6 linked regions of the Homo sapiens genome follow. The protein of the gene in region 1 purifies or fractionates together with the protein of each later gene. This does not show direct contact. Each region holds a gene or a part of one and is shown on either strand. Other genes may lie near its edges. The genes, in order: AMOTL1, SCML1, BLTP3B, CDADC1, RNF146 and MRPS9.

Region 1 (3,636 bases):
GCTCTTATTGACTAGGTGCTAAATGGCCACAGTCAAATTGGTAAAAATGACTATTTCCAGCCATTAGTTTTGTGACTTTTCAACCACAGATGCATGCTTTATATTTATAATCAATGATTTTTAAACAAAGAAAATAACTTCTGTAAACCAACTGGTTTTCCCATCTTTATGCATCTTGATGGTGTTGGTCAGAATTTTTAGAGAGTCAGCTTATCTTTTATGTGTGCAGAAGGTTTTGAAAATTTTTAAAAATTTCAAAGCAATGTAATATTTCTTTCAGAGTTTTATATATTTACTATCTAAGTTGCTTTCCTCTAATTGTGTTTGCTCTCCTTACTTGGCAATGTAAACATGAATTTTCAGATTTGTTTCCAGCTCCATGTAAAGTCTCCAAAAGTAAATTTGTTGAAAATGTTTCTAGCCACTAATTTCTATATTGATGATTTTGTGCACCATAGTGTGAATTTATAATTTTGCAAATATGTTTAAAGCATTTTGTTTGCTTTCTACATCATTTGGCCTTTAGTGTATTTTCAATGACACTTTGCACTTTTCTGAGCCACATTCTCACATATGCCCTCTGGTTTGTTTTTATCTTTACTCATCTTTGCTGAGACCTTCTTCTTAAAGACATATGAAACTTGCAGGAGTATAGAGCGATGGTTAGGGGCATGGACTTTGGAGTCATAAATACCTGAGTTAGAATCCATTTTCACTATTCACTAACTGAGTATTCTTGGAAATGTCACCTAACCCTGGTTTCTTCATCTAGAAATTGAGGATAATAATACCTTGTGCACAAGTTGTGAGAACTAAATGAGAGACCATGTGTACCGTGCCCTACCCAGTCCCTGTATGAAGTAAATGCTCATTAATGTTGATAGCTGTCATTAAAGGGGCCTCTATTTTTCTGTTTTGGGCTATTCTGTAAAAAAAAAAAAAAAAGCTTTAAAGTTTTCAGGCGGGGCGCGGTGGCTCACGTCTGTAATCCCAGCACTCTGGGAGGCTGAGGCGGGTGAATCACCTGAGGTCAGGAGTTTGAGACCAGCCTGACCAACGTGGTGAAACACCATTTCTACTAAAAATACAAAATTAGCCAGATGTGGTGACGCATGTCTGTAATCCCAGCTACTTGGAAGGCTGAGACAAGAGAATCGCTTGAACTCAGGAGGTGGAGGTTGCAGTGAGCTGAGATCACGCCACTGCACTCCAGTCTGGGCAACAAGAATGAAACTCCATCTCAAAAAAAAAAAAGTTTTTCAGTATGATTGTACATTGGAATATGAAGTTAAAAGATGTGAAATACTTGGCTACATCATGTCTTACTAATTAAATACTCATGTAGTCAGAGCCATTATTGTGCCTTTCATCTTGAGCTATATCACTTAGATGATGCAGTGATCTTATTTTTACTAATCATTGTTAGTTAGTAGTAATTAAATTGTCAAAACCAGTGGCAGGAATAGTTATCTGTGACTGGTTGTTTATAGTCAGACAGATGCTTGCAGTGAAACTGCTTCTTGATCTTCTCGTGTCTGCCCTTGCCCTCACTGCACCCACCTCACCTGAACTTGTCAAGGACAGTGTCTGCCTTCTTCTTTCTGTCCTGGACCCTGGCATGCCTATTACATTGTCCTGACCTGCATCCCAGGCAGGGCCCATAAAACAAGAAGTGAGACAGAATACAACATGAAGGAAGACTTCAGCTTGGAGCCTCACTCTCTGAGAGGACCAGTCTCAGTTTTAAGTATTTACTGAGCCCCCATTTTACTGTAAAATACTGAAGTAGGCATTCTATGCTGTATGGATGATAAACAGAAATAAAACCTAAACTCTGATTGGAAAAGTGAGGTATAGGACAAGCATGAAAAAGTACAAGCATGGAAACACCAACAAATACAATAATAATAATAATAATAATAATAATAGTGTCCATAAGTCAGTAGATTAAATCTCTAGGTGCCCATTTTACATATTCATAACATGCCATGTAGCTACATACATAATGTAGTCAGAAGGGGGAGGGGACTTGATTTTTGAATTTTATTTTGTTTTCCTTAGATGCTGCTTAATTCTATCTAGTTAAGGAAGAGAATTGGACAGAATTCAGGAGAGGAAAAGTGGGTGAAGGAGTTTGTGGAGTTTTAGCACGGCACCCTGTGATCACCTCTCCACAAGCATTTACACCTTTCTCTGTATGGGCATCAGATGAGATTGATAACTGAGCTGGGGAAATTGGGAGGGAAAGGCTTCATGAGCCAATGCGAGATGCAGAGCTGATCTCTGTTCCAGCATGAACACCAGCCTCTCCATTCTGTGTCTGTTTGCATTGAGACAAAGCAAGAAGGTTTCCTATGATCAAACGCATATCCTTGTGTTGCCAGGGACACCACGATCATCAACCACTCACGGAATGGCAGCTACGGAGAGAGCTCGCTGGAGGCCCACATCTGGCAAGAGGAGGAGGAGGTGGTGCAGGCCAACAGAAGGTGTCAGGACATGGAATACACGTAAGGGACGACTATGTGTGACGTGTGGGGCCCGCTGCATTCACACTCCAGGCCTTCCAGAACAGATTGCTTCTCTGTCCTGTTCTGAAAGGCTGTGAGCATGAGGTCTCCAAAAACTCTCCTCCCCCATGCTGTGCCATGGAGAGAAGGAAAAGGTTCCAACCTAAGCACGTGGTTCCACTCAGCAATGGATCTGGTGCCGGAGTTCTCTGGGGGAAATTGCGTGTCACCTGCCGGTTTTAAGATGCAGGCTGAGTCTAGTGACAGAAGAATTTAGATGTCTGTGTTATTTCTTGGTGTCTATCTCTATGACATTATGAGCTGAAAGGGGGAAACATTATATCCCAAAGATTCAGAGTTTTTGAGCCAGAATTTATATATTCCAGTCCAAAATAAAGAACATATTTAGCTAATGCACTCTTCTGATGGGCTACACAAAATTTCCAGCAGACTTTTTGACATAATAAAACTAGCCTGTCCCCCTTCACTACCTAAGGGCTTGTGGAACCCTGGGAGCCCTAGGCCTCTTATTTTGCAGATGTGAAAATAGGGCTGAGTAGTTGAGCCATTGATAGATAGGCTCAGTGAGTTACTATCAAAGTTGTGAAAATAACTCAGCATTCTTCCAGAAAAATCATCTTCTACCAGAGAACCTGTTCATCTTGGTTCTTTTTTCTTAGAAAATAGAGAAATTGACTTTAGCTGAAAGCTCACCCTGTTTGAGGCTTTAGAGTTTTTATGCTTCCCTATCCCCTACCTACCCCCGGCCCCCACCGCCAATGCTAGACCCTCTAAATATGGTCCCCAGCCGACTTCGGTCCAGGAATGTGGCCACGGTCATTCTAACTGTACCTCGCTGAAGTCCCAGTCTCCCAAGGTGCCAGAGAAGGTGTACTCTTTTGACATATGACAAAAGACCTGTCTTAACAATTTGGAGATTATCAACATTTGAAGACTCGTACTGTGCTTCATCCTGTATCCCTAAATTACAATTAAAGTCTTTGGGACAGCCTGAGATAAATGTTTCAAGTTTTTCTAGCCAAGTGGCTTTTTATGGAGACTGTTTTGTTTTGTTTTACAGTATTAAAAATCTCCATGCCAAAATCATAGAGAAAGATGCTATGAT
Region 2 (3,636 bases), on another chromosome or scaffold:
GGAGAAACAAATTTTCCTAACTAATTACAAAACCCACTTTAGTCATCACACACTAATTTTAGGGAGTCTAACACTGTGGGTGAGTAAAAGGATACTTGTCAGTACACAAAGAAATTTCAACACAACTTAGTGTAGAGCATAGCTAAAACTTTCTGAAGTATGAGCAGTTAAACTGTCTCATATCTCAGTTATTTTTTAAACATATAAACCTTTGACCAAAATCTCTATTACTATGCAATTAAACATGAAAGAGGAATTAAATAAAATGTTAGTTACTTCTGACCTAGTTCAGCAGAAAATAATCTTGTTTTCTTCACAATGCACATTAGCACTTAAGCCACGAGAGACAGGAATCTAAAAAGTAAAGCGATACTAAAAATAACCTTATTGAATACGTGGGGAAGATTTGATAAAAGTACTAATTTGGTTCTTAAAGATAATGGGGTTGTTATTGAGATTCATTGATTAAAAGGAACAAATTTAAGCAATTATAAAACTGTAAATTTGGAGAATTTCCATTATATTTTGCTAGTAAAATTAACCTAATCTAGATAGATTAAGAGAGAAATTCCTTGAAATACTTGAAGAGAGTCATAGGTTAGGTTAGATTAACCTAATTTTACCCAAGTGACAGATCTTTTGCCATATTTGCCTGTGGCCAAAGAAGACTTGGTTTACTTAGTCTGTTTTGTGATCTTTGAAACTTTAATGTAACTTCTGAACCAGCTTTTGCTATTTAGGGGAGGTCAGATGGGACACTCTTGTGTAGGCATCCCCACATCATCTTTATATAGGCTTTCACTAGATTTTACAGTTGGAGTCTTGACTCCTTGCTAGGAACATCACAGAAGGTTCCAACAAAGAGAGCATTCCTCCTTACCTAACATCTCTTCTTTCAGGATAATGATCAGGTCGAGTGTGATTTGTCTTTTTTTTCTTTTCCCCCTCTCCATTGAAGTTACAAGGTCACCAGTTGAAAATGACGGTTACATAGAGGAAGGAAGCATCACTAAGCACCCTTCAACCTGGTCGGTGGAAGCAGTGGTCCTATTTCTAAAACAAACAGATCCTCTTGCATTATGCCCTCTTGTCGACCTCTTCAGAAGCCATGTAATGTATCTTTTGATCCTGTTTTCCTGCTGTAATGCCTTTGAATGACCTCTGTGCAGGTCTTTCAGTTGGATACTGTGTGAATGGTGGGAGAACCCTATTAGCTGATTTTTCCATATATGAGAAAGCTTATTTTGCCCAAGGTTAGCCTTAAATGGTAGGCTAATGGTCTGTTCTTTAAATGGGTGTAGAAGTGCCTAAAATACAAACTGCCTCAGCTTCTTAAGACATGATGATTCAGCATGGCCACTCAGGTGTACCTCCCCTTTGTAATGACAGATACAAAGATCCTCCCCCTATCTGCTCCCAGCTGGGCACCAGGACCACGAGGAGGAGGGGGTAACCACAAGCTATAACAGGGTGGCCTTCGTTTTATATAACCAGTGATTCAACAACTGATTCCATTTGCCTCGATTATTGATGATTTGTAATGCTAATACCCTCTTGCTATTATCAGACCATTTACAAAGTAATATCCTAGGCCGAAGTTTTGTAAGTTCTAGTTTCTTTAATTTTGAGTTTTACTTAGTAGAAAAAGTATAGAAGGTGCCAAACAAAGGTTGTACTATAAGGGATTTCAGACCTTTTCAGATAGTGTTAAATGAGTAAATAAAATTTTATTTTTTAACTGGAACATATAAAACCAAATCATATGCTTCAGCAGCATAAGTTGATCAATTAAGATAAGGAATTTTAGGAGAATGCTTTGTGACTATGTTTTATTTATTCAGATATTTTCACAGTGTGTCCTAACAAAATTAGTAGCCACATATCTGATTTTTAATATAGTAAGAAAATTGGTGATTAGTTTTAGCATCTAATTAGTTTCAGACAACTAATTGGCATTCATCATAAAGACAACATTGTATAGACATTTACAGTTTGCACTGATGTTGACGTACTCATCTTCCCAGCCCTTCTCAGAAAGTTAATGAACATCTGAAATTCATTTTTACTATTCATAGTCTTTACTATTTTGTCATGGATGTGTAGTATTTTATTCAACATACAGTATATATTTAAAATTAAGTTTGACACAGTTTATTTTTTAAGATATTATGTTAAATTTCCTTTTTCTCAGAACTTGAAATGAGTTTATACATTACCAAACGGTGCTTCACTGTACAAGTTATATTTTTAATAGTTTTCATAAAGTAGACGCATATTCAGAGAATATACATCTGCAATGAGCTGCTCTCTAGTTTGCTTTACATGTTCTCATAAAGAACTAACCATTCTGATGAAAATATGGAAGCATTATTAATTATCGTTAAGTTTCTTCTCTCCATAGGAAATTGACGGGAAGGCTCTGCTCCTACTCACGAGTGACGTGTTGCTGAAGCACTTGGGGGTGAAGCTGGGAACGGCTGTGAAGCTATGCTACTACATTGACCGACTTAAACAAGGAAAATGCTTTGAAAATTGAAAAAATCCTTGTGCAAATTTAGATTGGGCCAACTTCTAGAGGCACCAATGCCTTCTTAGTGTGGAATCATTTTTCTGCCCTTTAGTCGTTTTTGTTTTGTAGAAAGTATCTCTCAAAATATATTATAGCTAGAATTGTAGAACTATGTTATAGTCCAGTCTACTTCTTTAAAAACCATTTAAACTGCTAGATAGTATTAGAATAGTCCAATAGAAAATTCATTCTTTATAGGTCTTTAAAAATTACTTTTATTATATTGTTTACAAATATATTTCATGCAAGAAACAGAAAAAAAAAAAAACCCTTTGATTCTGGTTCATCTCGATACAGAGAACCAAAACAGCTAAGAGAGGTATTATCAGGGTTGACAACTCCTATGATTGAATCTATGGGAATTATTCCTCAGAAGAGAATTTAAAGGTGTACCCATATATATCTCTTTCTGGAGTATTTTATCTGTCTGATGTTGCAGTATTCTACAAGTTTCCAGAAAGAGAATAGCCATATAAATTATTTTCCTTTCTGCTATTATTTCTCTATATGTTTTATTTATTCAGATTTAGAGTAAAAAATAAGCATATAAACTTTTATTATGTGCTCTTAACAGTTTTAAGATAAACTATAGGATAGATAGAATGGTTATTTTATGCAAGAAATATTGTACCGCAAGGGTGGTTTGGATGAAGTCTGACTACTTTTTTTCAAACAAACTATTATATTAAAACTGTCATATTTTGGCTAAGTTTGGACCTATAACTACACTTTCATTGTTTGCATCTCTCTATGAAGATACGTCTGTCCAAACTTTTAAAAGGCATAACTGTATTTTATGTGTTTATTCTTTATATAGATAGTATTTTATATTTTATTCTCACCCGAAGTATTCACACAATCTTTTTAAAAAAAATTTGAAATGGCATTTTGTATTGCCACAGAGGTAGGATGAGCCATATATTAGTGAAATGTTTTATTTTGTAAAATATAAATGGATTATTTGCCATCATTAGTACCTCTCAACTTACTTTTTAGAGGACAAGAAACAATCTGTAGATTGGTTTCCATACAGGGAAGTTCTCCGTCCTATGCAATGTTTCTAATTA
Region 3 (3,636 bases), on another chromosome or scaffold:
ATTGCCACAAATACAAGGCACTGTCCAAACTGTCGACATTCTGACCTAGAAGCTTTGTTTCAAGACTTTAAAGATTGTGATTTTTTTAGTAAAACATATACCAGCTTCCCCAAATCTTGTGACAATTTTAATCTTCTACATCCAATTTTCCAGAGACATGCTCATGAACAAGATACCAAAATGCATGAAATTTATAAAGGAAATATTACTCCCCAATTGAATAAAAACACTCTTAAAACTTCTGCTGCCACGGATGTTTGGGCTGTGTACTTTTCTCAATTTTGGATAGATTATGAAGGGATGAAAAGTGGAAAAGGACGGCCAATAAGTTTTGTAGACTCATTCCCTCTTTCCATTTGGATTTGTCAACCAACAAGATATGCAGAGTCACAAAAAGAGCCGCAGACTTGTAATCAGGTATCTCTAAATACATCACAAAGTGAATCTAGTGATCTGGCTGGCCGATTGAAGCGGAAGAAGCTCTTGAAGGAGTATTATAGTACAGAGTCTGAGCCTTTGACAAATGGTGGTCAGAAGCCTTCTTCATCAGATACATTTTTCAGATTTTCCCCTTCCTCGTCAGAGGCAGATATTCATCTCCTAGTTCATGTTCATAAACATGTCAGTATGCAGATTAATCACTACCAGTATCTGCTTCTACTTTTCCTGCATGAGTCACTTATCCTGCTTTCAGAGAACTTAAGGAAAGATGTAGAAGCTGTAACTGGCAGTCCTGCTAGTCAGACATCCATTTGTATTGGAATTTTACTTAGAAGTGCAGAACTGGCTCTTTTGCTCCATCCAGTGGATCAAGCAAATACTCTTAAGTCTCCTGTTTCTGAAAGTGTGAGCCCAGTGGTACCTGATTATTTGCCTACAGAAAATGGGGATTTTTTGTCTTCAAAAAGAAAACAAATTAGTAGGGATATAAATAGAATTAGAAGTGTAACTGTTAATCATATGTCAGACAACAGATCTATGAGTGTTGACCTTAGCCATATCCCTTTAAAGGATCCTTTGCTTTTTAAATCAGCTAGTGATACAAATCTGCAAAAAGGCATTTCTTTTATGGACTATTTATCAGATAAACATTTAGGGAAAATAAGTGAAGATGAAAGTAGTGGACTTGTTTACAAAAGTGGCTCAGGAGAAATTGGATCAGAAACAAGTGACAAAAAGGATTCATTTTATACAGATTCAAGTAGTATCTTAAACTACAGAGAAGATTCGAATATACTTTCATTTGATAGTGATGGTAATCAAAACATACTTTCAAGTACTTTAACTAGTAAAGGAAATGAAACCATAGAGTCCATCTTTAAAGCTGAAGATTTGCTTCCAGAAGCAGCTTCACTCTCTGAAAACCTGGATATCAGTAAAGAAGAGACCCCCCCAGTTAGAACACTTAAATCACAGTCATCTTTAAGGTAACAACATTTTATTGGCCTTTTTAAAAATTAATTTATTTTGTGGAGCGTGTGTGCCTATGAGTGTATTTTGTTTTGAGGCAGAAAAGCTCATGACAAAATATGGCATTGTTAACATGTAGAAGAGTAGATGTTTCAAAATATGAAAACACTTTGAGCTTATACGTTTAAATATAATTTCAGCTATGGATGCTATATACATATTTTAATTCTCTTAGAAGTATTTTTTAGATAGAATTCTTTTCTCTATATGTAATAATTTTCTAATAATTTTGTTAACAGTGGAAAGCCTAAGGAACGTTGCCCACCCAACCTGGCTCCTCTCTGTGTTTCTTATAAGAATATGAAAAGAAGCTCTTCACAAATGTCATTGGATACCATTTCACTTGACAGCATGATATTGGAAGAACAGTTATTAGAAAGTGATGGAAGTGATAGCCATATGTTTTTGGAAAAAGGTAAAGTTATGATACGGCTTAAGAATTCATATTACGTACATACACCTTAGGAGAAAAGGGATGCTTTTAGTTATATTCAGTAATTGTTAACTGTACCCATGCTTTTTAAAGTTACTGAACATAACTAAAAATAACTGAATATTTCTACTTATATTTAGTAATTGTTAATTATTAATAATATTTAGTTATTTTTAGATATATTCTAATTGTTCATTATAGCCCCCCAAAAAGACTTATTTATACATACAGGGACTATGCAAGAGTACCTAACTTTCCTCTAATGGTTGTTCCATTGTTTCTTTTAACCAGATACTCCTGCCTCTCTATGGCTGAGATCCAGCAATTATATGTATGCAGTCATTTAGACCATAAAGCAGGCGACATTAAGGCTACCAGCCTCTATTACAGAGACTCCTATATTTGGAAATTTGATTAGGTGGGCTTAATTTGCATGGTGAATTCTACTGATTTACAAAATTAGGATTCTTTCACATATATGATAGTATATGGTGTAACTACATGATTTTCCCATTTTATTGAGAGACAACCAATGCCCCAGTAAAGACTGCTAGAAATGACTTAGAAGGTGTTAGTTGCATCTCCCTCATTAAGGCATTAAGGAGTTTGTAAACAGGAATTAGAAGCATGGGCCATAGTCAGAAAGTAGTTGCTGCAGACACAAAAACATAGGATACCAGAGGCAAATATGAATTACTTTCTTTTTTCTTTCTTTCTTTTTTTTTTTTCACTCTGTCGCCCAGGCTGGAGTGCAGTATTGTGATCTCAGCTTACTGAAACCTCTGCCTTCGGGTTCAAGCAGTTCTCCTGCCTCAGCCTCCCAAGTAGTTGGGATTGCAGGCATGCACCACCATGCCTGGCTAATTTTTGTATTTTTACTAGGGATGGGGTTTCGTCATGTTGGCCAGGCTGGTCTCAAACTCCTGACCTCGAATGATCCGTGCACCTCGGCGTCCCAAAATGCTGGGATTACAGGCATGAGCCACCATGCCTGGCCTGAATTACTTTCTGTTTGAAAGGAAATAAGCCCACTGATTTAGATGAAAAGCTTAGATTAGATAATTAGTAACATAATAAATATAACAAGTATATAATAAGTAATAATATAATATGTATTATTGATGTAAGTACCATAGTGGTAGCTACCATTTATTGCCAAGCAATGTCTGTTTTGTTCTATCACAGAATACCACAGACTGGGTAATTTATAAAGAACAGAAATTTATTTCTCACAGTTCTGGAGGCTGGGAAGTCCAAGATCAAACCTCATCAAATTGTAAGCGTTGCATTTTGCAGTCCTCTGGAGGTCAAGAGAAGCTACCTGAAGCCTCTTTTTTAAGGGTCTTAATCCCATTCATGTAGGGGTAAGCTCTCATGGGCTGATCATCCTTTAAAAGCCCTACCTCTTAGTACTATCACTTTGCCAACACATGAATTTCAAAGGGACGCATTCATACTGTTGCAGGTGCTTAAATAGTTTACTTCTTTTAATTTGAGTGACAACTCTGTAATAATAGAAGCTAACATTTATTGAGCATTTACTTTGTGTTGGTACCATTCTATATGCTTTGTATATATATTAATGAATTTAAACCTCACAATTCTGTCAATAGTATACTGTTATCTTCAGAGAGTGGTTAAATAACGAATCCAAAGTAACACAGCTAATTAGTGGTTTAAATTCAGACATAGAGCCTATTGTCTACTATGTACCTGATTGCCTCAACCCTGTG
Region 4 (3,636 bases), on another chromosome or scaffold:
TTTAACTCACTGAATTCATAATGAATTATGAGGTAGCTACCATTATTTCCCCCATTTTACAAATAGGGAAACTGAGGCTGGGAGACATTATTTAACTTGCCCAAGTTTCTAAAGCCAGTTACTGGCAGAACTGGTATTTGAACCTACTTAATCTGATTCTAGAGCCTGTGCTATATAAACTCTTACCCACTATGCTATGCTATTCATTAGTATCCATTTAACAATTACTACTATTGCAATAGCTGCAATTATCACTCCTATAGTACAGGGGAATCTATCAAAGAAACACTCAGCTTTCACTTATCTATTTCTGAAAACATTTTTTATTAAAGTATAAGGTGCATTTCACTGATCTATTTTTATAATTGTCAATTTATTTAAGTACTTTGATTATATGATGTAAGAAAAATGTTAGAAATGTCTTCTGGAATTAACCAGAACACAATAAATGTGCAAAAATTAGAATGGAATTTACAGAGTTTATAGGCCACTGAAGCCCATCCATGAAACCCTTCATGAAACTCATTCATGAGGCCAAAGGGCAGAACAAACCCTCCCTGAAAATCTCAATTGGGCTTTTAGAATTTAAATTTAAATGTCTATACGAATTCTGCTGCTCAGTTTTGTCCTTCCACTCTTCTTAATTTTCCAGTGATATTGCTGATAACTATTGTTTTTCCTTTTACTATTAATCCAAATATTAAAGATATTTGTAAAAATTTAAAACAATCTCATTCTTACAAATTTTTGTTTTGGAAAATAGTTTTTTTCATAAAGCTAATGTTATTTATATTAATGTATAACAGATTATTGTTATTTTTAATGAATTAATAAATATTTTAAATTTTGTTTTAATTTTCAAGTACAGTAAATATCAGTAGATATATTCCACATAAATAAAAGCTTTTTGGAGTCCTCAATAATTTTTAAGAGTGTTAAGGAATCCTGAGATCAAAAAATTTGAGAAACTCTGCTTTAGCATTTGCCACTAATACACAAATGTCTGTCTAAAGAGGATTTTTCCCCTCTTGAATCAGGATTACTGGAAGCAGCTAAGATGCCTAGATGAAAGGTTTACCATCACTGCTGGTTAGGAAATGGATTATGAGAACTCGAACAGAGGGAAGGTGAAATGCAACCGGAGGAAACACTCTGATATGAGGTTTGAGGCCTTCAAAATTGCTTTGCAGCATAAGCCACAGTGAGTCAGGAGTACCAGGGAGTGGATAGAATGTTTATTTGTTTAACTGAGACTTTTTAGTTCATCAATTATTTTGAAGGGTAGAACACTCTGTGGGCTCTCTTTCTATTTGCTTCTGGGTACAATCACAAAAAAAAAATCTCTCCTAGCTGAAATTACATGCAGTACTAGCAAAGGGGTCTCTTTGTTATAAACTGTTCATTAATTGACGAACATTTGTGTACTTAACTATGTATAAGGCATCTCATCGTTCAATTTCAAATACAAATTAAAATATTTTTTCACATTTGTTATCCTGTTATGTTTTCTCTTTTACAAATTGTCTGTTCGTATCTTTTTGTCTCTCTTTAGGCCTTATTCTTGTCAATTCATATGTGCTCTAATGAATTGAAATATTTTCTGTATATTAAACATTACTAACCTTTCCTCTGTCACACTGATTGAAAAATGATCTATTTAGTTTGTTGTTTTGTCTTTAATTTTGTAAGCTTTAAAAAGTTAATATTGCCCTTCAGACACCATCCCAACATCACATAAGAATTTTTTCATGTTATAAATTCTTTGTGGACATATTTGATAACTGTTTTATTATGAGGAGGACCATAATTAATTCAACCATTCCCCTATTTTGGTCATTTAGGTTTTTGGGTTTGGGTTTTTTGTTTGTTTAACGTCTTTGCTTGCTATTTTAAAGAATGCTGCACTAAATGTGCATGCATGAGATTTCTTCTCTGTATTTAGAATATTTTCCTAGAATGGATTCTCAGAAGAATTCTCAGTCTGTGGAGAGGAACATTTTTAATGCATGGAAGAGGTATTTATTCCAGATAGAAAACTAGGCAATATTAGTTGTTCCCTGTAAGATTTTAAAAAACAGCCATGGCACCATGGAGGACTCTTCGAGTATATAGTTTTAGCGCTGGGCTTTGGGATCACACTTCACAACACCAGTAACTCCACAAATGCATTCCTAGAGGCTCTGTGAGAGGCTGGGTAACTTTTTCTTGAAAAGGCCAGATAATAAATATTTTAGACTTTGCAGGCCGTGTGGTGTCTGTCACAGCTACTCAACTCTGCCACACGAAAGCACCCAAAGACTATATAAGTGAATGGGTGTGTCTGTGTTTCAATAAAGGTTTATTTATGGATACTGAAATTTGAATTTCTGACAGTTCGATGTGTCACAAAATGTTCTTTTGATTTGTCCAACTATTTTAAAATGTAAAACCCATTCTTAACCTGTGAGCTGTACAAAGACTGGCAGTGGACTGGATTTGGCCTGTGGGTGGTAGTTTGCCAACCCTCAGGCTATATAATAGGTGACTTGGTAATAGACATTTATTATATTGAGGGTTCTAGATATACTGCAATGATAGGGTGGATTTTATAATGAAAACCCTAAATTCAGCATGTATCTCATAATTACCTTTCGTATTTTGTATTTCAGCTGGAGTTAACCGAATTTCATACTGGCCTGCTGATCCAGAAATAAGTTTGCTTACGGAGGCTTCTAGTTCTGAAGATGCAAAGTTAGATGCCAAAGCAGTGGAAAGATTGAAGTCAAACAGTCGGGCCCATGTGTGTGTCTTACTTCAACCTTTGGTGTGTTATATGGTGCAGTTTGTAGAGGAGACCTCTTACAAATGTGACTTTATTCAAAAAATTACAAAAACATTGCCGGATGCTAACACTGACTTTTATTATGAATGTAAACAAGAAAGAATAAAAGAATATGAAATGTTATTTTTGGTTTCAAATGAAGAAATGCATAAGCAAATACTGATGACTATAGGTTTGGAGAACCTGTGTGAAAATCCATACTTTAGCAATCTAAGGCAAAACATGAAAGACCTTATCCTACTTTTGGCCACAGTAGCTTCCAGTGTGCCGAACTTTAAACACTTCGGATTTTACCGTAGCAATCCAGAACAGATTAATGAAATTCACAATCAAAGTTTGCCACAGGAAATTGCAAGGCACTGCATGGTTCAGGCCAGGTTATTGGCATATCGAACTGGTGAGTTACATAGATCGTAAATTGGGGCTGATTGGTTGGGTTGTATTTGTCTCTGAAGTGTTCGTCTCATTTATGGTAGAGTTCATTTACTCATAGTTACTTAAGTTTTGCTGTTCATACAATATAGAGAAGTTAGTGAGACCCTTGAGTAGACAACTCTTTCTCCCAGCAGTTTTGGGATTCCTTGTAGCCTTATATTCAGTACCACATTTCTACATCAGGCCCTCATTAATCTAGGCCCTTCTTTCTGCTTCTTGCTTTTATGATTTCACTGTTCCTTGAGCCCTCCACTAAAGGTAGGACAAGAAGAGAAAGGAGAGGCCCAGTGCAGTGGTTCATGCCTGTAATTGCAACACTTTAGAAGGCTGAGACAGGAGGATCGCTTGAGCTCAGGAGTTCAAGACCAGCGTGGGCAACA
Region 5 (3,636 bases), on another chromosome or scaffold:
GCACTGAAAAAAACCATGATGCTACACTTACATTTCTATTACAGATCCCACAGATGCCTGCCACAAAAATAAAGCATTTTCTTCACCAGCAGTCAGCCAGCTTACAGTATTTTCTCTTCCACTGCTGGTTCATTCTTTGTGCTGCAAAAGAAAAAAAGAGTAATTAAGATCAAGAGAATCAGTTAATTATGTATAATCCTTTCAAAAAATTCAGTGGAAAACTTTATCTTAAAAGTGGGAAAAATTAAAGACAAGATGCATGCTTTTACCACTGCTATTCAACATGACTGTAAGTTCTAGCAGAGCAAATTAGGGAAAAGAGATAAAGGCATACAGACGGGTAAGGAGGAAGTAAAACTATGTCTATTCTCTCTAGATAGAAGATCTCATAGAATCCCCAAGAAAGCTAATAAACAAATTCAGCAAAGTTGCAGGTTACAAGTTTGACACACAAAAAAATCAGTTGTGTTCTGATACACCAGGAGACAACAATCCAAAAAAGAAATCAAGAAAACAGTTCATTCATAAAGTAACTAAGGGAATAAAATAGCCAGGAATCAACTTAACCCAGGAGGTGAAGGACTTGTACACAGAAAACTATAAAGCATTACTGAAAGAAATTAAAGAAGAGCTAAGTAAATAGACAAGTGATGTATGGATTGGAAGACTTAACATATTAAAATGACAATACTACCCAAAGTGATCTACAGATTCAACATAATTCCTATCACAATTCCAACAACCTTTTTTGCAGAAATGGAAAAGCAATCCTCAAATTCATATGGAATTGCAAAGGACCCTAAGTAACCCAAACAATCTTGAAAAATCCAATGTCAAAACTTACTACAAAGCTAAGGTAACAAGACAGTTTGGTGCTGGCATAGGACAGATAAATACACCAATGATATAGAATTGAGAGTCCAGAAATAAACTCATACATCAATAGCCAACTGATTTTCCAAAAGGGTGTCAAGTCTACTCAATGGGGGAAAACAGGCACCTCTAACTAATGTTGTTGGGACAACTGGATTTCCACATGCAAAATAATTAAGCTGGACCTCTACCGTATACTATATATAAAAGTTAACTCAGAATGAATCAATAACCTAAATATAAGAAATAAAACCATAAAACTCTTAATAGAAAACACAGGAGCAAATCTTCATGGCCTTAGATTTGCAATGGATTCCTAGATATGACATCAAAAGCATGAGAAACATAGGAAATAAATTGGGCTTTATATAAGTTTAAAATTTTTGTGCATCAAAAGACACTGTTAAGAAAATAAAAAGACAAACTGCAGAATGGGAGAGTATCTTGGCAAATCATGTATCTGATAAAGGTTTAATATCCAGAATATGTAAAGAACTGCAGCTCAACAACAAAGACAAACCAATTAAAAAGTGAGCAAAAAATGAGTAAAGAACTTAAAGAAGATACACAAATGGCCAATAAACACACAAAAAGATCCTTAACATTATTAGTAATTAGGGAAATGTAAATCAAAATCACAATGATACATCTATAAGGAGGCTACAACTTTTTTAAAGGGAAAAATAATAAGTGTTGGTGAGGATGTAGAAAAATAGGACCTTTGAAAACTGCTGGTAGGAAGGTAAAAGGGTGTAGCTGCTGTGAATAATAATTTGTTGCTTCCTCAAAAAGCTAACACAGCAATGCCACTCCCAGGGATATAGCAATAGAATTGAAGAGGTTCTCAGACACTTGTATGCCAATATTCACTGCGGAAATATTAGGCAAAAGGTGGACACAATTCAAGTATCTACCAACAGATGAATGGATAAACAAAATGTGGTCTATAAATACAACAGTACATTATTCAGTAATAAAAAGAAATATGTGCTACAATATAGATGAACCTTGAAAACATACTAATAAGCCACATACAGAAAAGTATGATTCCACTTACATGAAATATCAAGAATAGGCAAATTCATAGAAGCAGAAGGTATCAGAAGTTACCAGAGAGTGAAGGAAGGAAAGTGGAGAGTTATTGCCTAATGGGTACAGAGTTTCTGTTTGTAATGCTAAAAAAAAGTTGTGGAAAATCTATAATGGTGATAGTTGCATAACATTGTAAATGAAATTAACTACATGGAATTGTACTCTTAAAAACCTGTACCATCTCAGTCATTAATCTTCTTTCTTCTCATTTAGTATTTCCATCTCCACCTCACCATGTCCACTACAGGACGCACATCATATTACACAGAATAATCAAGAACACATGATAACTAAAGAAATGATAGATCTCACAGTAAACACAAGATAGAGGAGACTTCAATCTTCTTTTATTTCCATGTGGCTCTCATACTATGGGCATCTATCTCCCTACGGTATCTTAAGATTCTAGTGTTTAAAGAAACATATTCTTAATGCCATTATGTGGCCCCTAAATACAAGCTGACTTATCCTACCAAATGTTTAACAGAACAAACAATTTGTTTTAAAATCAGAGAACTTTCAAAAGTAACTGACTGTGATGGTTAATACCGAGTGTCAACTTGATTGGAGTGAAGGATACAAAGTATTGATCCTGGGTGTGTCTGTGAGGGTGTTGCCAAGAGATTAACATTTGAGTCAGTGGGCTGGGCAAGGCAGACTCACCCTTAATCTGGTGGGCACAATCTAATCAGCTGCCAGTGAATATAAAGCGGGCAGAAAAATGTGAAAAAGAAAGATGGGCCTAGCCTCCCAGCCTACATCTTTCTCCTGTACTGGATGCTTCCTGCCCTCGAACATCAGACTCCAAGTTCTTCAGTTTTGGGACTCGGACTAGCTCTCCTTGCTCCTTGCAGACAGCCTGTTGTGGGACTTTGTGATCGTGTAAGCTAATACTTAATAAACTCATATATATATTCTATTAGTTCTGTCCCCCTAGAGAACACTGCCTAATATACTGACTAAACAAGGTTTCTAAGTAACCTTTTTGTTTTACTCTGACTTTAGATGAAATGGACTCCACTATTTTGACTTTCCTCTCAACCCTTTCACCAACTTCAAGGAGCCTACAACTTCAATGGCATCAAAGAAGGCTATGTTCATTTCCTTGCTGCAGCCTACGCCAAACAGAAAACTGCACATTTTCATACACTCCCTATATATAGGACAGGAGGAGACAATTTACTGCTCCAACATCATTACTTTTTCTTTCAAGTCTCTATCACACTGACTTTAACATACCCCATAATCCCCTAAAACTGCTCTCTCACCACCTGTAAGGGATTAATGTCATCTTTTCACTACTGATCATCCTCTTCATCCTAACTCCTGACATGACTATCAGCCTATTTAAATAGCCTTGAAAATGAACCATCCAACACCTATTGCACAGGTTCTTAAACTTGTCCCAACTTCTATTCATCAGAATCACTGAAATTGCTTGTTAGAAATACATATTCTCAGCCCCTTTCCTTAGAAATTCTAGGCCAGTAGACATAGGTTTAAACCTAGGAATCTCACCCCAGGTGGTACTCATGCTTTAGTCCTTCAAATACAATCTGAGAAACACCATCCTCAATTTTCAGTTCCTTAAATCCTAAATTTGAAGAAATTAATCTACTCTCCAGCAACCAAATATTATAATCACATTTAAAGCTAGTTGTCACCTAAACT
Region 6 (3,636 bases), on another chromosome or scaffold:
AGAGATTCAGCACAATCCCTATCAAAATCTTAGGTGGCTCCTTGCAGGAACTGACAAGCTGATCCTAAAATTTCATATGAAAATTCGAGGAGCAAAGAACAACCAAAATAGTCTTTAAAAGCAAGAAGGAAAGAAGACTACTTACACTTCCCAATTTCAAAACTTACTATAAAGCTACAGTAATCAAGACAAAGTGGTACTGGCATAAGGATAAATGTATAGATCAATGGAATAAAATAAGGTCCAGAAATAAGCCCTCATAGTTACACTGATATTCAATATAAGTGATAAAATAATTCAATGGGAAAAAATAGTCTTTCCAACAAATGATGCCGGAACAACTGAATGTCCATATGTAAAAGAACAAAGCTACATCCCTGCCTCACATCACACACAAAAATTACGTTAAAATGGATCAAAGACCTAAATGTAAGAGCTAAAACTACAAAACTAGAAGAAGAAAATATAAGGGTGAATTTTCATGACCTTGGATTAGCAATGGTTTCTAAGGTATACACATAAGAGAAATAAAAACATATGTCTACACAAGAACTTTATAGCATGCACATTCTTAGCAGTATTATTCATCAGAACTAAAAATGGAAATCCAAATGCCCATCAACTGATGACTGAATTCTTAAAATGTGGTATATCCATACAATCGAAAACTATTCAGTAATAAAAAGGAAGTACTGACACATGCCACAATGTAGATAAACATGAAAACATTGTGCTAAGTGAAACAAGTCAGTCACTAAAGACCAAATACTGTATGACTCTACTTATATGAAAGTCCGGGGTAGGCAAACTTAGAGTCTAGAGAGTCTATGTTCTAGGTGATTTGAAAATTAGGACCTGAATTCTATTCCTGTTGCACTCTTCAATTATTACATTCCTGACAAAAGCAATAATGGTCAATAATTTTTTTTGCTAAATGCCCCAGGATAGCTAGCAAAGGAGCTTAAATTTAACAACTTTGAATCTTGTTCTAATTTTTAAAATGTAATATCTAACATCTCATGGTATTTTATACTTAACTGAAGAATAGCATCTCTTTATGGAAAATATCCCCCAATACTGTCCAGATTACCATAAAACTCAAAAAGAGGACAGCAGCTACAAAGTCCCTAATTACAAATCACCTAACATAGAAGAGCAATAAGAAATCCTTCTGGACCGGGCCGGGTGGCTAACGCCTGTAATCCCAGCAATTTGGGAGGCTGAGATGGGTGGATCGCCAGAGGTCAGGAGTTCAAGACCAGCCTGACCAACATGGTAAAACCCCATCTGTACTAAAAATACAAAAATTATCTGGGTATGGTGGTGCGTGCCTGTAAGCCCAGCTACTCAGGAGGCTGAGGCAGGAGAACTGCTTGAAGCCAGTAGGCAGAGGTTGCTGTGAGCCAAGATCGTGCCACTGCACTCTAGCCTGGGCAACAGAGCAAGACTCTGTCTCAAAAAAAAGAAAAGAAAAGAAAAGAAAAAAATCCTTCTGGTTGAATAAAAAATGTTGGTCTGAAAGTGATACTACAGTACCATTTATAAATAGGAAAAGTATACAGAAAGATTGAAATTAAACTAAAGTGCATAAAATGACTAAAAATAATATTAAAATCGTATAAGAATGTTATTATCTATACAAAGATGTTGTTCTTCGATTAAATATAAAACATCATGGGATATTAGATGTTACTTTTTAAAAATAAGGACAAGATTCAAAGTTGTTAAATTCAACTTCCTTTGCTAGCTACTCTAGGATGTCTAGCAAAAATATTATCGACAATTACTGCTTTTATCAGGAATATAATAATTCAAGAGTGAATAGAATTCTGATCCTAATTTTCAAATCACTTAGACTACGCCCCCATTTTGAAACCTCAGATATATATTTAAGTTGACAAAAACACTGGGCCAAGGTTTACTTATGGGACTTGATATAAATTTGACTCTATTTTCATTACCATCTGTTATATCATTTTGTAAGAAAGCTGAGTCTAAGACTACACAACAGGTTAAACATTTCCCAATAGTGTATGAGCATTTATAGACTCATTTCTAGGTAACACCTAAAACTCACCATACTAAGTAAATCCTGCACATTTGTCTTTGAAACCATGGCTCCAACTTAAACAATGTATAGCAGCATTTTTCCTTATTCTGACAGCTTGATTAAAACACAGAGCTAAGGGGCTCATGAAGAAAAGTGCTTTTAATATCTAAAACTCTACAGCAATTACTTTTTCAACAGAGTAACTGTACTTACGTCAATATCTTCTTGAGTGAAAGTTTCTGGATCTTCTCCCATCATGTTGGCTAAATGTCTCTTTCCTATGTTGAACTCTTCAATCTGCTTTTTAATAAAATCCTCTGTGTAAGTTTCACGTTTTGAGGTAGGAACGTTTTTCTTTGGTATTACAAATGCAGTATGTCTTAGCCTTAATATCTAACAGAAAATATAGATGGAAAGAAAAGAAAATAAATTAAACTGTGATCTTCTAGGCCATTGTCCTTAAATAAAATAGTATATGCAAGTAGTTATCTTTTTTTATTACGGTATTCAAGTGACAGGAGTCCAAAAAGCAAGTTTAAAGGACCTGCTAAGAAAGTTGTTAGAATGTGTCCCCTACTCAAAGCCTTGCTTACAATGCAGTTTAAGCTACTAGCATTTCAATACATTAAAACCAAAAATACCTGTAAGTGGTATGCTACCTCCTGATCTATTTTAAACATCCACTTTTGATAATGATTGGTCAATGTCAGTGAGTTTTGATATTTGACACATGGGATAAAGAGCAAAAGGCTACTCCCTTAAGGAGGCAAATACACACGCACCAGAAACCAGCAAGCAGAAAACACGACAGCAAACGGCATGGCCTGAGGAAGAGCACCTTACACTGTCGGTATTCACCTTATTTGTGGGTAAAAATACGTCCTATCTTTAACCATCTTTTGGCTTAGCTTAAGACTTTATTCCATGGTCCTTATATTAAAGTGATAAAAAGAAAAAATTGCTTGACTGAACATTGAGAAGATTTATTAATTTGGCTCAACATGCTAACTGCAGAAATAAGGGCTCGCATATCTTTTATTTTTCTTTTTTTTAAAATTATTATTATACTTTAAGTTTTAGGGTACATGTGCACAATGTGCAGGTTAGTTACATATGTATACATGTGCCATGCTGGTGTGCTGCACCCATTAACTCGTCATTTAGCATTAGGTATATCTCCTAACGCTATCCCTCTCCCCTCCCCCCATCCCACAACAGTCCCCAGAGTGTGATGTTCCCCTTCCTGTGTCCATGTGTTCTCATTGTTCAATTCCTACCTATGAGTGAGAACATGTGGTGTTTGGTTTTTTGTCCTTGCAATAGTTTACTGAGAATGATGATTTCCAATTTCATCCATGTCCCTGCAAAGGACATGAACTCATCATTTTTTTATGGCTGCATAGTATTCCATGGTGTATATGTGCCACATTTTCTTAATCCAGTCTATCATTGTTGGACATTTGGGTTGGTTCCAAGTCTTTGCTATTGTGAATAGTGCCGCAATAAACATACGTGTGCATGTGTCTTTATGGAGAGGATGTGGAGAAATAGGAACACTTTTACACTGTTGGTGGGACCGTAAACTA

Evidence for each region.
Region 2: the proteins of AMOTL1 (region 1) and SCML1 purify together in Homo sapiens (affinity purification with mass spectrometry, with the first as the bait; one large-scale study listed by BioGRID). This does not show direct contact.
Region 3: the proteins of AMOTL1 (region 1) and BLTP3B purify together in Homo sapiens (affinity purification with mass spectrometry, with the first as the bait; one large-scale study listed by BioGRID). This does not show direct contact.
Region 4: the proteins of AMOTL1 (region 1) and CDADC1 purify together in Homo sapiens (affinity purification with mass spectrometry, with the first as the bait; one large-scale study listed by BioGRID). This does not show direct contact.
Region 5: the proteins of AMOTL1 (region 1) and RNF146 purify together in Homo sapiens (affinity purification with western blotting; one study listed by BioGRID). This does not show direct contact.
Region 6: the proteins of AMOTL1 (region 1) and MRPS9 purify together in Homo sapiens (affinity purification with mass spectrometry, with the first as the bait; one large-scale study listed by BioGRID). This does not show direct contact.

The regions. Positions count from the first base shown.
Region 1 is NC_000011.10:94,862,351-94,865,986, forward strand, and holds part of AMOTL1 (angiomotin-like protein 1), read left to right. Parts: intron 1-2,384; coding exon 2,385-2,510; intron 2,511-3,591; coding exon 3,592-3,636. UniProt on the Homo sapiens protein: Inhibits the Wnt/beta-catenin signaling pathway, probably by recruiting CTNNB1 to recycling endosomes and hence preventing its translocation to the nucleus.
Region 2 is NC_000023.11:17,750,857-17,754,492, forward strand, and holds part of SCML1 (sex comb on midleg-like protein 1), read left to right. Parts: intron 1-958; coding exon 959-1,110; intron 1,111-2,401; coding exon 2,402-2,536; 3' UTR 2,537-3,636. UniProt on the Homo sapiens protein: Putative Polycomb group (PcG) protein. PcG proteins act by forming multiprotein complexes, which are required to maintain the transcriptionally repressive state of homeotic genes throughout development.
Region 3 is NC_000012.12:100,055,820-100,059,455, reverse strand, and holds part of BLTP3B (bridge-like lipid transfer protein family member 3B), read left to right. Parts: coding exon 1-1,427; intron 1,428-1,709; coding exon 1,710-1,885; intron 1,886-2,194; coding exon of another isoform or gene 2,195-2,250; exon of another isoform or gene 2,251-2,322; intron 2,323-3,636. UniProt on the Homo sapiens protein: Tube-forming lipid transport protein which mediates the transfer of lipids between membranes at organelle contact sites. Required for retrograde traffic of vesicle clusters in the early endocytic pathway to the Golgi complex.
Region 4 is NC_000013.11:49,264,842-49,268,477, forward strand, and holds part of CDADC1 (cytidine and dCMP deaminase domain-containing protein 1), read left to right. Parts: intron 1-1,037; exon of another isoform or gene 1,038-1,201; intron 1,202-1,942; exon of another isoform or gene 1,943-2,002; coding exon of another isoform or gene 2,003-2,015; intron 2,016-2,648; coding exon 2,649-3,218; intron 3,219-3,636. UniProt on the Homo sapiens protein: Catalyzes the deamination of cytidine and deoxycytidine into uridine and deoxyuridine, respectively. May play an important role in testicular development and spermatogenesis.
Region 5 is NC_000006.12:127,276,736-127,280,371, reverse strand, and holds part of RNF146 (E3 ubiquitin-protein ligase RNF146), read right to left. Parts: intron 142-3,636; 5' UTR 34-141; coding exon 32-33; intron 1-31. UniProt on the Homo sapiens protein: E3 ubiquitin-protein ligase that specifically binds poly-ADP-ribosylated (PARsylated) proteins and mediates their ubiquitination and subsequent degradation. May regulate many important biological processes, such as cell survival and DNA damage response.
Region 6 is NC_000002.12:105,047,978-105,051,613, reverse strand, and holds part of MRPS9 (small ribosomal subunit protein uS9m), read right to left. Parts: intron 2,444-3,636; coding exon 2,264-2,443; intron 1-2,263.